Linked DNA regions of Homo sapiens. The protein of the gene in region 2 interacts with the protein of the main gene of each other region in a biochemical or structural test. Each region holds a gene or a part of one and is shown on either strand. Other genes may lie near its edges.

The links. Proteins that work in one complex are often made in the same cells at the same time.
Region 1: the proteins of CEBPZ (region 2) and NFYB form a complex in vitro, tested with the Homo sapiens proteins (one study listed by BioGRID).

The regions. Positions count from the first base shown.
Region 1 is NC_000012.12:104,135,211-104,142,433, forward strand, and holds the start of NFYB (nuclear transcription factor Y subunit beta), read right to left. Parts: upstream 3,001-7,223; 5' UTR 2,931-3,000; exon of another isoform or gene 1,999-2,930; intron 323-1,998; 5' UTR 244-322; coding exon 238-243; exon of another isoform or gene 234-237; intron 1-233. UniProt on the Homo sapiens protein: Component of the sequence-specific heterotrimeric transcription factor (NF-Y) which specifically recognizes a 5'-CCAAT-3' box motif found in the promoters of its target genes.
Region 2 is NC_000002.12:37,228,333-37,235,791, forward strand, and holds the start of CEBPZ (CCAAT/enhancer-binding protein zeta), read right to left. Parts: upstream 3,265-7,459; 5' UTR 3,236-3,264; coding exon 3,080-3,235; intron 705-3,079; coding exon 1-704. Other genes in the region: NDUFAF7 (protein arginine methyltransferase NDUFAF7, mitochondrial), read left to right, coding at 3,374-3,428, 3,774-3,934. UniProt on the Homo sapiens protein: Stimulates transcription from the HSP70 promoter.

The DNA.
Region 1 (7,223 bases), on a different chromosome or scaffold from region 2:
CTTTACAGCTGGGACAGGCTACCCTGTAGCCTCAACAGCACTTAGGGACCCATGGGAAATAATATATGCAAGAAGCTGAAAATAAGGAAGCAACAGGAATGAGCAGAGGTACTGTCTGTCTAGACTTGAAATGCATTCATTCTACCAGGCACCTCCAGTATAAATTGGTTACAATTTTATTTCCAGCCAATTACTATTCAAATCTAATTAACAACCAAAATGGTAAAATATACTTACTGTCATGAAATACTGTCAGAACCGTGTTGTCAGTGGTGCTGAAGAACACCTATCTAAAAAGGTGTCTAATCTTTGTGATTTCAACCTAAAAGATAAACATCTATTAGGACCTAACATCTATCAATAGTAAAAATACATCAAATGTATCACTTATAGGCTTTTTTTCTCATAAAATTAAAGAGGGCTTGTATAATTTTGACTACTATTCTTAATCAATGGAGTACATGGTATAAAATAGTATAAAAAGGCACCCAATAAATGTTTGTTGACTTGAAAGATTTATTTTGGAGAACTTAAAAACAAGTTAATTCCATGGGGAAAGGAGAAAATGGATTTTCCAACATAACCCTGAATTTAGCCATATTCATCATAAACATTCATTACAATACACCAAAAAGGGACCAAATTATATAATATGCAAGAGACCAAAAATTATACATCTAAATTACTTAAAACATTAACACTCAAGATGCAAACACACCCCTTATCATCTTAATTTTTTGGTGATGGTTTTCTTAAATGTTTCAGAGTAACATTTAGACATTCTATAGCTCAAGAGGAGGAAAAAATTATCTGAGAATATAATGCTTTTCAATTAAGAATCTCAGATTATACTGTAATGAAGATACATTCTGCACTGAGAAGATATCAAAAAAGCAACACAATCAAGACCCTTATTTATAATTTTGAAGCACCACCATTTTTGACTAAAATTGCATCGAAATAGCACTTCAGTCTCACTGTAAGGCATAAATAGCTGAACAAATTAGTACCAATTGCTGTGTTACAAGTTTCATTTCTCATTTGCTCCATTCTTTCTCAAAGGAAACAATTAAATGGGGGAGGGGTAGGATGCCAAAACAAAAACACATCCTTTCAGTGTTAATTTTAAAGGGAGAAGATATACTGATACGCATCCAAGCATGAAATCTAGCAAATAGCAGAAAAAATTGTAGCCACTGAATTGAAAGTTTTTAATGCCACTAAAAAGGTCCAGGTAGCAAAAACTGCTTGACGTTTGCTATAATATTAAAAGTAATTTATAATTTCTTTTCAAATATTAATAGTATCCTCTAACCCCAAAACTGCTCAGAAAAGTCCTTCCTTGTAACGAGAAATGTTATTTTTTAAAGAGTGTCTTTGAAAAAATAAGCCCTCAGAACACTTAAAACATGGGAGCTATATTTATGTATTTTGCTTGGAATGGGAGAGGGGGGTGTGGGCAGGGAGTCATACCACACCACACTCACTCACCCAAATAGTTGATTCAGTATATATTTAGACTCAGTACATTAAAGAAAAACACTGTCACCTCATATGGTGTATATTTTCTTAAGGGCAGGTTGATATATGTAAAAGCTCAAGGGAATGCATACATCTGTTTAATGTTTTAAGAAATGCAAATTTGTATCCAAGAAAAGCAGTAGTCCCTTCCTCCACCCTCCATTCTTTGGCATCAACAACCAGAGTTTTGCATCAATATACAGTAATCCTTAAATTAAGATACAAGAGCAATGCAGGGAAGGAATAATTTGCCTTTTAAGGAATTTTGGTTAAACTTTCAATACTTTACAAATAAACCCCCCACTGATTAGTGCCACTGATATTGATCCGTTTGCTTTCATCACTTTATGTTGCTGATTAGTTTCCATACTAAGAGAGATGAAACCACCCCAGTGATTTGTAGCACGAACCACGCAACTATGGGGTCCATGCGGGTTAGTGGGATGCCATTTTTTTAAAGGTCGCAGGCTACCTAACCTTGTTTAAATTATCCTGTTAGAGTGCTTTGGGCGAGATTACGATTTGTGGGTGCTCTGTAATTCTTTGTTCTCTAAGACTACCGTTCTTTAAGGCCCTGCATATCCTCCCGCCTCCCACCACTAATGATTAAAACCTTAGTCCAATCCGAAGGGCTTCCTTCCCACCTTCGGGGCAAGTACAGGGACCGCAAACCGCCAGATGGCTGCATTCTTTACGCGCAAACCAGGCTGCGGGGAAGCTAAAGCCATGCCTTCCTCCCCACGCAGGTGCCTGGGTGGCCCCGGCCCCACGGCCTGGTCCCGGCGACCTGTCAGCCCTGCGAGTGCCAGGAGGCCGCCCCCAGAGCGCATCCCCTGACTCGCCCGGCCGCCCCGGCCCCGCGCCCAACGCCTGCCTCCCACCCGCCGCGCGGCCCCCGGGATGTGCGGGCAGACAAAGCGCCGGGCCCCGCCACAGCCCCGCGGGCGGGAGGAGGGCGCCCCCGGGGACTCGCGCCGCCGCCGGGGCTACGGGGCCAGGGCCCGGGCCGCGTCTCCCGCCCCTCGGCCGGCTCCCCGCACAAAATGGAGCCGGCCCGGGACGCCGTCGAGAGCGGGGCCCCGACGCAGCCCCGCGGCCCCTCCTCGGCCCCGGGCCCGGAGCTCAACGGCGGCGAGGGTGAGGTGGCCTGGCCCGCGTCCCGCCGCTCCTCAGCCCGGCGCACAAAGAGCCGCGCCGCGGCCCCGCGCCCGCTCCCCGGCCCGGCCCGCTGCGGGAGCGGCCTCGCAGGCGCGGGGCCCGGCCTCGGCCCGCGCGGGAGGGCGGGAGGCTAGTGCCCCCGGCCGCGGCGGCGTTGGCGGCGGGGACGGCGCCGGGAGGAGACGGACATTTCATTCGAGCTAAAGTGGAGTCGGTTTAGGAGCGATCATTGGCCGAAGCGAGACACAAACCTCCAATGCAGCCCTGGTTGGCTCCCGTCTCCAATCGGCTGTTTGGTTGGACAGAAAATGGCTGCGAAGGAACCAGTCCCAGCGCGGAGCTCCGCTTCCAGGACTCGGCCTCCCCTCCCTCCGCCGCGGGCCGCTTCCCTCGGCGCGACACCCTCCCTCCGCGCCGCCCGCGCGCCCGCCCGCCGCGGCCCCGCCCCGCCCCGCCCCGCCCCCGGCCCCGCCCCGCCCCCGGCCCAGTCCCGCGTTCCTGTGAGGCCTCCGCGCCGCTCCGGATGCCGCTCCTCTAGGCGCGAGGTCTTCCAGGGCCCTGCCCGGGCGCGCCGTTCGGGTCTAGGCGGGCCTCCTTCCCGGTGCTGACCCGGGCCTGTGCGAAGCGGGATCTCTCGGGCGTCCCTCTCTTTGTCACCCCTTCCCCCGCCACGTGGAGGTGCCTCAGCCGCCTGAGCTCAGCCTGCCTGCGCCTGGATTTTTAAGAAGGGGAAACCAAGGACAGAAGCCGCCCCCTAGGACGACGCGCCCGAGCCACCGGGAGGGTCTGAACGGCGGGGGCCTCCTGGAGCGCCTTCAGCGCCTCGTGTTTTCTTTCCTTGGGTCCCTGTTAGCGTCGCCGCATGCACAGCGCTCCCTGTCATTTGGTCCCTGAGCTTGGGTGTTTTTCACATTTCATCTAAAGATGCAGACCCCTGCTAAGTCTAGCCAGCCTTCACCCTGAATCTTGAACTTAAGATGCTGCATTTTCCACCCACCCCCACCCCTCTAGTAGCTGCAGATTGACAAGCGGCTTTTCCCAACCAGATGACATTTTGGCTGCAAGAATCCGTGGCCCGTTCTTGCCTCTGTGCAGCCAAGCTCCTTCGCTGTCTTTCTCAAACTGCAGTCCTGAGTTCAGCTTCGCTTAGCAGTGACCATCCCAGAGGTGGGTAATCCAACACTGGATCCACTCACTGCAACCGGAGCTGGGGATGGCATGCCCTCTGCTTCCACTAACCGAGTGGCCTGCACCACATTAAACTCTCCAGCTTTGATTATGTAAAAATACAGAGATCTTTTATTTATAGAGTTCCTACTGTTTCTCAGAGTATTTAAACATTTCTGCGGCAAGTATGGAAGAAAAGACAAATGAAAGCCCCAAATTGTGACAAGAGGAGTAAGTAGCAATGCCACTGTCATCAGACAACCTGACTTGAATTCCAACTCCCCTTCTTACAGGCTTGTGATCTTGGCCAAATGTCTGCTTCTCAGGGTTGTTTGGGATAATGTATACATAGAAAGCCCTTTAAAAAAAAAAAGTTATCCCAGCACTTTGGGAGGCCGAAGCAGGCCGATCACCTGAGGTCAGGAGTTCGAGACCAGCCTGACCAACATGGCGAAACCCCGTCTCTACTAAAAATACAAAAATTAGCCGGGCGTGGTGGTGGGCGCCTGTAATCCCAACTACTCAGGAGGCTGAGGCAGGAGAATCGCTTGAACCCGGGAGGCAGAGGTTGCAGTGAGCCGAGATCACACCATTGCACTCCAGCCTAGGCGACAGAGCAAGACTCCATCTCAAAAAAAAAAAAAAAAAAAGTTATCCTAAGATCTTTATATAGCATGAATTTCTTCAATCTCCATCAAACATTTAAAAGGTGTTATTTGCTTAGAAAAAAAAAAGGAAAAATTGGCCTGAGTTTAATTTCTCCCTTTCTCTATGCTTACCCATAAAGTGGAGATTAAGGAGTGAAATGATGTGTTCAAAGGTTCAAAGGCAGGAAATATAAAGTAATAGAATTGGGAGAAGGGGCTGGGCATGGTGGCTCACGCCTGTAATCCCAGCACTTTGGGAAGCCAAGGCAGGCCGATCACCTGAGGTCAGGAATTCGAGACCAGCCTGACCAACATGGAGAAACCCCGTCTGTACTAAAAAATACAAAATTAGCCGGGCGTGGTGGCGCATGCCTGTAATCCCAGCTACTCGAGAGGCTGAGACAGGAGAATCACTTGAACCCAGGAGGCGGAGGTTGCGGTGAGCTGAGATCGCGCCATTGCACTCCAGCCTGGGCGACAAGAATGAAACTCTGTCTCAAAAAAGGAAAAAAAAAAAAAAAAAAGAATTGGGAGAAAGATGACTAATCCTTCTCCCAATTCTGGATGGTGAACCAAAAGATGCGAAGATGACTACTTTTCTGAGTTAATAGTTTATCATTTCAGTACTGTGGATCTAAACTATGTGCTTAATTCAAATTCCACTAAAAGGTAATATCAGCTCCTACATTCTGCAGGCATTGTACTAGGAGCCCAAGGGCTACAAAGGTGAATGAATCACTCTCCTTACCCTGAGGAGCCAGAACTCTAGGAGAAATGGAACCCGGTCCACATCCCCTCTGCAGTTGGATCCTAGGTCATCCTGCCTTAACAACCAACCTGTGTTCTCTGTTTCTTCTGTATCTATTTCAGGAAGCCCCCAATAAATGTTAACCACTTTTCTGATGACTTGGTGAAAGAGGAAGGCCAAGATCATAATTTAGTCTTGGAAAAAACACTGCAGCTAACCTAGTCTTTGCATTCAAAGTCAGAGACAGGTAATTGAGTGTCTTTATTTCGAGTCTGTACACCACAGCTGCCAGTTAGTTCATATCGCCATTTCTCTAGGCGTCATAATTAAGCAAACAATGAAACAGAATCCCTGGCCCCATGAAGACTTCACAGTTTTTACTTCATCACTTCAATGAGGTCTCGTAAAATTCCCATGAGGACAGGGTCTAGTAGAATATTGTCTCCACTTCCACCTTCCTGATTCTTCTCTTGCTCCACTCTTCTCAATCCATTCTATGCACTGAGGCCTAGAAGGATCTGGCTTCAGCTTCCCTCTCCCACCCGGCTTGTGGCTCTTCCTCAACCCTGACCTCACCACCTTCTAGACCCACTGGCCTATGCATTGCTCCTCACACACGCACCAGCCTTAAGATCCTCACTGGCTTCTTTTCATCACTGAGGTCTTGCCCCTTCAATGAGGGACTTCCCTGATCCCTTCTTCTTAAGTAGCCCCGCCCAGTTACTCTCTATCCTGTCATCCAGCTATATTATTCTATGTAAAAGTAAATATGATATTTGCTCCAATACCCTTAGCCTAACTGGATTATCTTGTTTATTTGTTGGCTATAAGTACATATATCTAAAATGGAAACAGGCCAGGCTCAGTGGCTTATGCCTGTAATCCAAGCATTTTGGGAGGCTGAGGAGGGTGGACTGCTTGAGCTCAGGAGTTTGAGACCCGCCTGGCCAACATGGTGAAACCCTGTCTCTACAAAAAGTACAAAAATTATCTGGGCATGGTGCTGCATGCTGGTAGTCCCAGCTACTCAGGAGGCTGAGATGGGAGAATCACTTGAACCCGGGAAGTGGACGCTGCAGTGAGCTGAGATTGCATCACTGCACTCCAGCCTGAGTGACAGAGCAAGACTCTGTCTCAAAAAAAAAAAAGGGAGAAAACACTTCTCATTGCCCATACTACTACCACCATGGTTCAAGTCACATCTCCTGAAAGGATTTGGATGTTCTAGCCAAATCTCATGTTGAAATGTAATCCCCGGTGTTGGAGGTGTGGCCTGGTGGGAGATAATTGGATCATGGGGGTAGCTTTCTCATGAATGGTTGAGCATCATCCCCTGGATGCTGTCCTCGAGATACTGAGTGAGTTCTCTTGGGATGTGGTGGTTTAAAAGTGTGTAGCACCTCCCCCTCTCCCTCTTGCTCCTGATTTTGCCTTGTGAAGTTCCTGCTCCCATTCTGCCTTCCACCATGATTGGAAGCTTCCTGAGGCCTCCCCAGAAGCAGATGCCAGCCTTATGGTTCCTATACAGCCTGGAGAACCGTGAGCCAATTAAACCTCTTTTTGTATAAATTACATAGTCTCAGGTATTTCTTTACAGGAATGCAACAACAACCTAATACATCTCTCATCAGGGTGACTGCAGTGACTTGTCTCCCCTCTTCCACTCTGGTACACAGCAGCCAAGATTTCAGATCCTCTGAAAATATAAGTCAAATCCTGTCACTCCACTGCTCAAAAATCCCCTATTAACTCCTCATTTCTCTCAAAGTAAAAGACAAAGACTTTCCAGTGGCCTTGTAAGACAGAGTGGCAAGTTCCTTCATTCCAAATTGAGCAACAAAAAGATACTGATTGTTCTTTGGTCATAGTGACAAGAAACAACCAGAATCTGTTTTAATCAATCAATAACAATCTCCTGATCAGTGACTTGCTTCTGAAAATTAGCCAATCAGCAACAGCCACACTCTAGTAATCCTTCTTCC
Region 2 (7,459 bases):
TCCAAGGCCATAAGGCACTGCTGTTTGCTGCCCTTCTTTTTAACAAGGTTCACAAGAGTTTCTACAAACTGAAGTGTGTGAACGGCATCATCCTGAATAAGAAGAATCATGGCTGCCATCCTGTCACCTAGTGTCCCCGATGACACAATTGCCTTCATCCAGGTAGAAGAGGCTCCCTTTTGACTATTCGTCTTACTTTTGAATAAGTTGATTTCATGCTGATACAGCTTCTGAGCAAGGGTTTTGTACTTAGATACAACATCCTGAGGCTGGGGTTTCAAAGAATATTCATTGCTGTACTCCAGATCATACCATTTGCCTCCAGGCCTAAGTAACAAAGTCTGTCTCTCAAAAAATTCAAAGATGTTCTGTTTATCTTTCTTTACTTTCGGTGTGGTACTGCCATTCTCATCAGAATGTGGTTCTGGCCTATTCTTATTTTTCACCTTATTAACTGATGTCCTTTGACTTTCTGCTGTATTTTTATTATTTATTTTAGGTATTTTTACTTCTTTTTTGCTGGAATTTTCTTTTTCAGCTGGTTCATCTTCTTCAACTAAGGAAGCTTTTGTATACTTCGCCAAATTAAGATTTTGAATAAATGCTTCCAATTCACCTTGCTGAAGGTCATCGATTGCTCCTTTTTTGCCTCCATCTATCACTTCCTCATTCTCATCCAAAGTAGCCAGCATAAGGTAATCTTGCTGCATTAAAAACATAAGTTAAAAATACATTACAAATGTGAAAAATAAAACCATAAAATAATAGGAAACACAACATAATTTTAAAAATAATTTCGGAACTGGAAAAATCCTTTCAAATTTGACATAAAACTCAGGGTCCACAAAGGAAAGGATAAGTAAATTTCTCTTTCTCTCTCTTTCTTTTACACACACACACACGCACACACACTTTTTATTTCGATATAGGAAAAAAATATAAATTATAAACTGGAAAAAAAATACAAGCAATTCCTATCAAAGTAATTGGGTTTAATCCCTTAATATAAGTTTCTACACATCAGTAAGTGACAACCCAAAAGAAAAATGTGCAAAGGACATGAACAGTTCATAGAAAAAAAGGGTTCTTTAAGAATATGAAAAGATGTTCAACCTCACTGAGGTTTAGACAAATCCACATTAAAACCACAATGATACATCCATCTTTTAATTTATCAGATGAGCAAAGATACACTGCAAGATGAGCAAGATACAATGACAGGTGATGCTGGGGAAGGGGTGGCGGAAACGGCACTTTCATACATGGTTGATGTGAGTGTAAACTGACACAACCTCCATGGAGGACAATTTGTCAACTCCAATCACAACTATTTAATACAAGGCACACATCTGTTGGCCCAGCAGCTTCATTTCTAAAAATTAACTAACTGATTGAGACATGGTCTCGCTCTGTTGTCCAGGCTTGAGTACAGTGGCATGACCATGGCTGAACTGCAGCCTCAACCTCCCAGGCTGAAGTGATCCTCCAACCTCAGCCTGTAGCTGGCACTACACGCCCAGCTATTTAAAAAAAAAATTTTTTTTTGAGATGAGGTCTCCTTATGTTGCCCAGGCTGGTCTCAAACTCCTGGACTCAAGGTATCCTCCCACCTCTGACTCCCAAAGTGCTGGGATTATGGGTGTGAGCCACTGTGCCTGGCTCATTTCTACAAATTTATACTACATATACACTTACAAAAGTGGGGGAAAAACACGATTAAGGTTATTAACTGTAGTATTATTTAAAATAGTGAAAGACTGGCAATAATTTAAATATTCACAATAAATGGCTGGTTAGATAAATTAAGACAGACAAAATGATTTATGCAGCCATAGCAATGACACAGAACGTTATGCACTGATATAGAAGGATTTCTAAGACAGAAAAGAAAGCAAAATGTAGAGATAGGTGTATATATATGGTACCATTTATGTAAAAAAGATACACCCGTATTTCATACACATAAATGAGTATGTATATGCTTGAAAAGGTATATAGTATCCCTGAAAGATATAAAATGCAGTTGTAAAAATAATTGCTTCCTATCAGGGCAATGGTTATGGCTGAGATAAAAGTGGAAACAATTTGACTTCACTATGTATCTTTTAAAGTTTGCACCACGTGTTTCATGTGTATATATTACCTATTCAAAACTTAAATATACACAAGCACAGAGCAAACTGTGAATCTGCCTATCTCTAACTAACTCCTCCACCTTGAAAGTCCAGTCTCCAAACAAAATAATATTAAAAACAAAGTTAATTTCTGTTCCTTATCTGCTTAAAATCTTCCAGTGGTTTTGCATCAAACTCAGAGCAAAAGCCTGCCCTCTGACCCCTCGGCCCTCCTTTCTTACTATTCTCCCCTTAACTCACTCTGCCTCTGCTACACTGGCATTTTGGCTGCTCATGGAATAGGTTAGGCACTCTTCTGCCTGTCTTTGCATTTGCTGTTCCAACTGACTGGAATGGCAGCTCACTCCTTCCTGTCCTTTAGGATTCTGCTCAAACATTTCCGTGATGTGTTTGTCGATCATCTCATTTAATACTAACGCGCTCCCACTCCTTATCGTCCTTCCTTGTTTTATTTTCTTTTATAGCACTACCCCGCGTCTGCTGTACTATGTGTTTAAAAGTTTGTTTACTGTTTCTCTCCCTTAATTAGGATGCTCCAAAAAAGAGGGCTTCTGGGGCATACAGTGACACGTGCATGTACTCTATGAGAACAGAAATGAAAATTCCAATACCACTGGTGTTCAAAACACTCATACCACAAGGTCAGGACCAAGAAAAGCCACTCTCCGACCTGATGGTGTGATGGTTATACCACGTCAATAAAATCAGAAGATCGCCTACATCCTAAGAATAGCCAGAGAATACAACGTTCAATTCGAAACTTTTCTTTTGTAAACAGCAGTGGAAACCGGCGTGGGAAGCGCACCGAACACATGCTTCAGAGGCTGGGATCTCGGTCCTGGACGCCCGCGCTCTACGCAGCGCGGAAGCGGCGGGGCAGTCAGCCTAGCCACCTTCGGAACTCTCCACGCCTGATCCCGTTCCCCGGAGCCCGCGGCCGTTACCTTGGTGCCTCCGAGCCGTAACACTTCCTCCAGGGAGAACCCATTCTCGGCTTCACTAGTATTATCCTCATCCTCCTCGTCCGGATCTTCTACTGCCTCCTCGGGGCGCCAAGGCCGCTTGGCATGGAACTCCAAAGGCTCCTTGACTGCGGCCATGGCGGGCAAAGCATACGCGCGTGAAACTCAGCCTATTTCCGCTCTGCCAGTGGCGTAATTCCTGTCGGGGCGTGTCTTCTCCCGGAAATGGTCTAAGCCCCAGCTCCTGGCGGAGCGAGCTAGCCTGCGAATTTCAGCATGAGTGTACTGCTGAGGTCAGGTTTGGGGCCGTTGTGTGCCGTGGCGCGCGCAGGTAAGCGTCAGTCCCCTCGAAGCCCGGTTGCCGTGGAAGCCGCGTGGGGCGCCTTCCTCAGCTCTTCAGTTGAGGGTACCGGGGGATCAAGGGCTCGGGGGCTCACTTCCACCTTGAAGGTACCCTGGGCTGGAAACGGGTCCGGTACAAACGCAATAGGGCTGCGTAGTCGTGGGCAAGTGGGTGCTGTCTCTGCGCCCCGTGGGCGTGCTAAGCACAGTAGCCCGCGGTCTGCGGTGGGGCGAGGTTAAGGGTTCACGAAGCTGTTTTGAAAACGCTCAGGCGGCTTGCGCTCGTGAATGGTCAGATTTATCATGGGGTCTGTTTAATTTGTGTTTTTCGCAGCCATTCCTTTTATTTGGAGAGGGAAATACTTCAGCTCCGGGAATGAGCCTGCAGAAAACCCGGTGACGCCGATGCTGCGGCATCTTATGTACAAAATAAAGTCTACTGGTCCCATCACTGTGGCCGAGTACATGAAGGAGGTGTTGACTAATCCAGCCAAGGTATGGGTCGGGTAGCCCGAGGACTAGGCCCTCTCTAGCCGATTTGCGAGGTGCAAGCCAGGAGGGAGAAGCCCGAAGGTTCTCAGCCCAGGCAGTGGGGGTGCCTGCCAGGGGAAGAGCCATTTCTGAGGACCTGGGGACAGATAATTTGTCAGTTGGTCAGGGCTGGCTCACGTCAGAGGCAGTGCCAGTAAAGAGGAGAGGACACGGTCCAAGGGTGTTTAGGAGACAGAATGTAGCTGATTGGATTTATGATGCGGGAAGGATGACTTTCCTACTTGGCTGATGGTGGGTGGTGTGGATTCATTGCTTTGGGAGAAGGAATACGGGAGGAAGGATGGAGAGTTCAGGCTGGTATATGAATTTGAAGTGTGTGGGACTCTTAGGTAGAAATCTCCAACAGGCAGCTGGAAATAGGAATTACTGCCTGGAAAGTCGTCTGTGTTGGAATGGCTTCAGCTGGCATTGGAGACATGTGCTGGGTTTTCTCACATGTGCAGTTGAGAATGCAGTCTGGGTCGTCTTCACTGTTCTAGGATTAGGCACAGTCACAGCTTTCTGACCCACGTTTCCTTGTCTGTTCTACAGAGCCATTTGGTGAAAGCCTATAGTCCTTTATTTTAGAATATTTCATCTTTTGCTGGGTTGAAATATGACCTCTGTGGAATTCTGGGGTTAGATTGGCCATTGTTGTTGGATATGGTAGTGTGACTCTAGTGTCGAGGTTTACCCAAGGCCGGTATCTTTCTTTCGATGCCGGTTAGGCAGGGCTGCAAGATAGGTGGCTTAGACTAGTGTGGTGGTACTAGAAATAGAAGAGGGTGATTTAGAAAGGGACTGACAGGATTTGCCGATGGATTGAGTGATGGAACGGAGGAATCAAGGCTGATTCGTACTTTTAGCTTGAGCAGTTGGGTGATGATGGTACCTTTTATTGAGATTAAGACAGACAGGACCAGGTTTGGAGGAGTACTAGGGAGAGGGCCTACACCAGGAGCTGCATTTTATACATATTTTGTTAGCAGTGACATGCAGGTGGAGATAGAAAGTAGGCAATTCGCTGTAAGAGTCTGGCGTTCAGGGCCGGACGTGGCGGCTCACGCCTGTAATCCCAGCACTTTGGGAGGCCAAGGCGGGTGGATCACGAGGTCAGGAGTTTGAGACCAGCCTGACCAACTTGGTGAAACCCCGTCTCTATTAAAAATACAAAAATTAGCCGGGCGTGGTGGCTTGTGCCTGTAATCCCAGCTAGTCAGGAGGCAGGAGAATCGCTTGAACCCGGGACGCAGAGGTTGCAGTGAGCCTAGATTTCGCCATTGCACTCCAGCCTGGGCAACAGAGCGAGACTCTGTCTCAAAAAAAAAAAAAAAAAAAGTGAGCCTGGTGTTCAGAAGAAAGACTGGGCAGGCATATATACATTTGCTCGTCATCAGCATATAGGTCATATTTAAAGCCAAGGAACCAGGGAGAACATACTGAGAGAAAGGAAGGTTTCCCAGCATTGAGAGTAGGGGTAACTCTAAAATGTAGAGGCTCTTAACCTAGGGACCCTTTAATAGAAATCAGGGGTTTCATGAAGCTGGATGGAAAAAATATTATACCTTTATTTTCACTAACTTTCAACTGAAATTTAGCATTTCTTCAATTATGAACATACGCAGCAACTAGTAGCATCAGCAATACCTGTGACTTTGTCATCTGTGGAAATCATTGGTATTTCCTTATCACAATACAGTGATCACAGGCATCTCAGGATTTCATCGTGCTCATCCTTACTTCAAAATTTTGTTAATTATTGGGTCTTTGGCTTGATTATGGGCTTTTTTGTTTGTTGGCTTTTTGAGATAGAGTCTCATTCTGTCACCCAGGCTGGAGTGCAGTAGTGCAATCTTGGCTCACTGCAACCTCCACCTTCAAGGTTCAAAGGATTCTTGTGCCTCAGCCTCCCGAGTAGTTGGGATTACAGGTGTATGTTTCCATGCCCAGCTAGGTTTTTTGTATTTTCAATGGAGATCGGGTTTTGCCTTGTTGGCCAGGCTGGTCTTGAACTCCTGGCCTCATATGATCCGCCTGTCTCAGCCTCCTAAAGTGTTGGGATTACAGGTGTGAGCCACTGTGCGCGGCCTAATTATATTTTTTTAATACACTAGTAAAGAAGTGTATATATCACATTTTTTAGAACATTTGATACACATTTTTCAGTTATTTCTTTGTGGTTCTGTGCATTTAAAAACACTCTGTGAAGGGGTCTATAGGCATCACTGGGCTACCACAGTGGTTCATAACACAAAAAAGCGTAAATACCCCAATAATGTTTCCTTATGAACGGAACTAGAAAGCCTAGAAGAAGAGATGTGTGGATTGAAAAAATGTTCTCAAAAATGGGAGTGACTTGATTTATTTTGAATGCTGAAGGGGGAAAGTTGAAGCTGGAAGAGAGAAGGGGACAGCTAAAAGGACTCAGGGGAGTTGTATGAGGAATGGTCCAGAGCACAGGCGGAGGGATTAGGTTTGGATGAGAGGAGAAGGGGAAGGCATTTCATTCTTGGAGTCCCCAGATTAGGTTAGAGGCCAGGTGGGGATGGGAAGCTGAGGAATTCGTATTTTATAACATTCTTTAATTCTGGAGTGAGACTGGGGCCCATGTCACCTGTAGTAAGGTGGTAGAATAGGAGCTTGAGAAGCATAAGAAATATTTAACTCAATTCTTGAGTGTTTCTTGAAGGTTAGGCATCGTGCTAAAACTTGGGATATGAAGATAAATAAGGCATGATCTTCTGCAAACAACTATACTTTGTGGTGAAGAACAGAGACAAATTAGCTCAGAAAAGGTGGCACTGGATTTGGCCTTAGGTTGGAGGGCTGGAGGAGGTCAGCTAGGTGGCATTTGAGCAGATTCGGAGGTTGAGTATAAGACTGCCAGGGAAAGTTGAAAAGGGAGAAGGGTGAGGATTTGCAGTGGCATGGATGTCTGGACAAGCAAGGCTAATAAGAAAAAAAAAAACAACCCTTTTTCTGGAGATATAATATTCATATAGAAAAGTTCATAAACCACAAGTTTACAGCTCAATGAATTTTCACAAAGCAAATGCTCCCATGTAACCAGCACCCAAATCAAGAAACAGAACATCACCAGCAGGCAGGGCCCATATGTGAGGCAGAAAGTGTTAGAATTTGGAGAGGAGGCTGGAGGAGTAGGCAGGGTCTTGCTGTGTTGGGTGTGGGAGCTGGGAGGGGAGGAAGGGTCTGGCGTGCAGAGATGGACGTTACATGACTTCTGCCTTTACGGTCAAGGTGTAATTGTTTTTCTACCGGTTTTGTAAAATGACTGTTACTTTGTAAAATTTGGGTAAAGACACCATATTTCCCTTGCTTATTTATTTATTTATTTATTTATTTATTTTTTGAGATGGAGTCTCACTTTGTCACCTAGGCTGGAGTGCAGTGGCGCGATCTCGGCTTACTGCAAGCTCTGCCTCCGAGGTTCACGCCATTTTCCTGCCTCAGCCTCCCAAATAGCTGGGA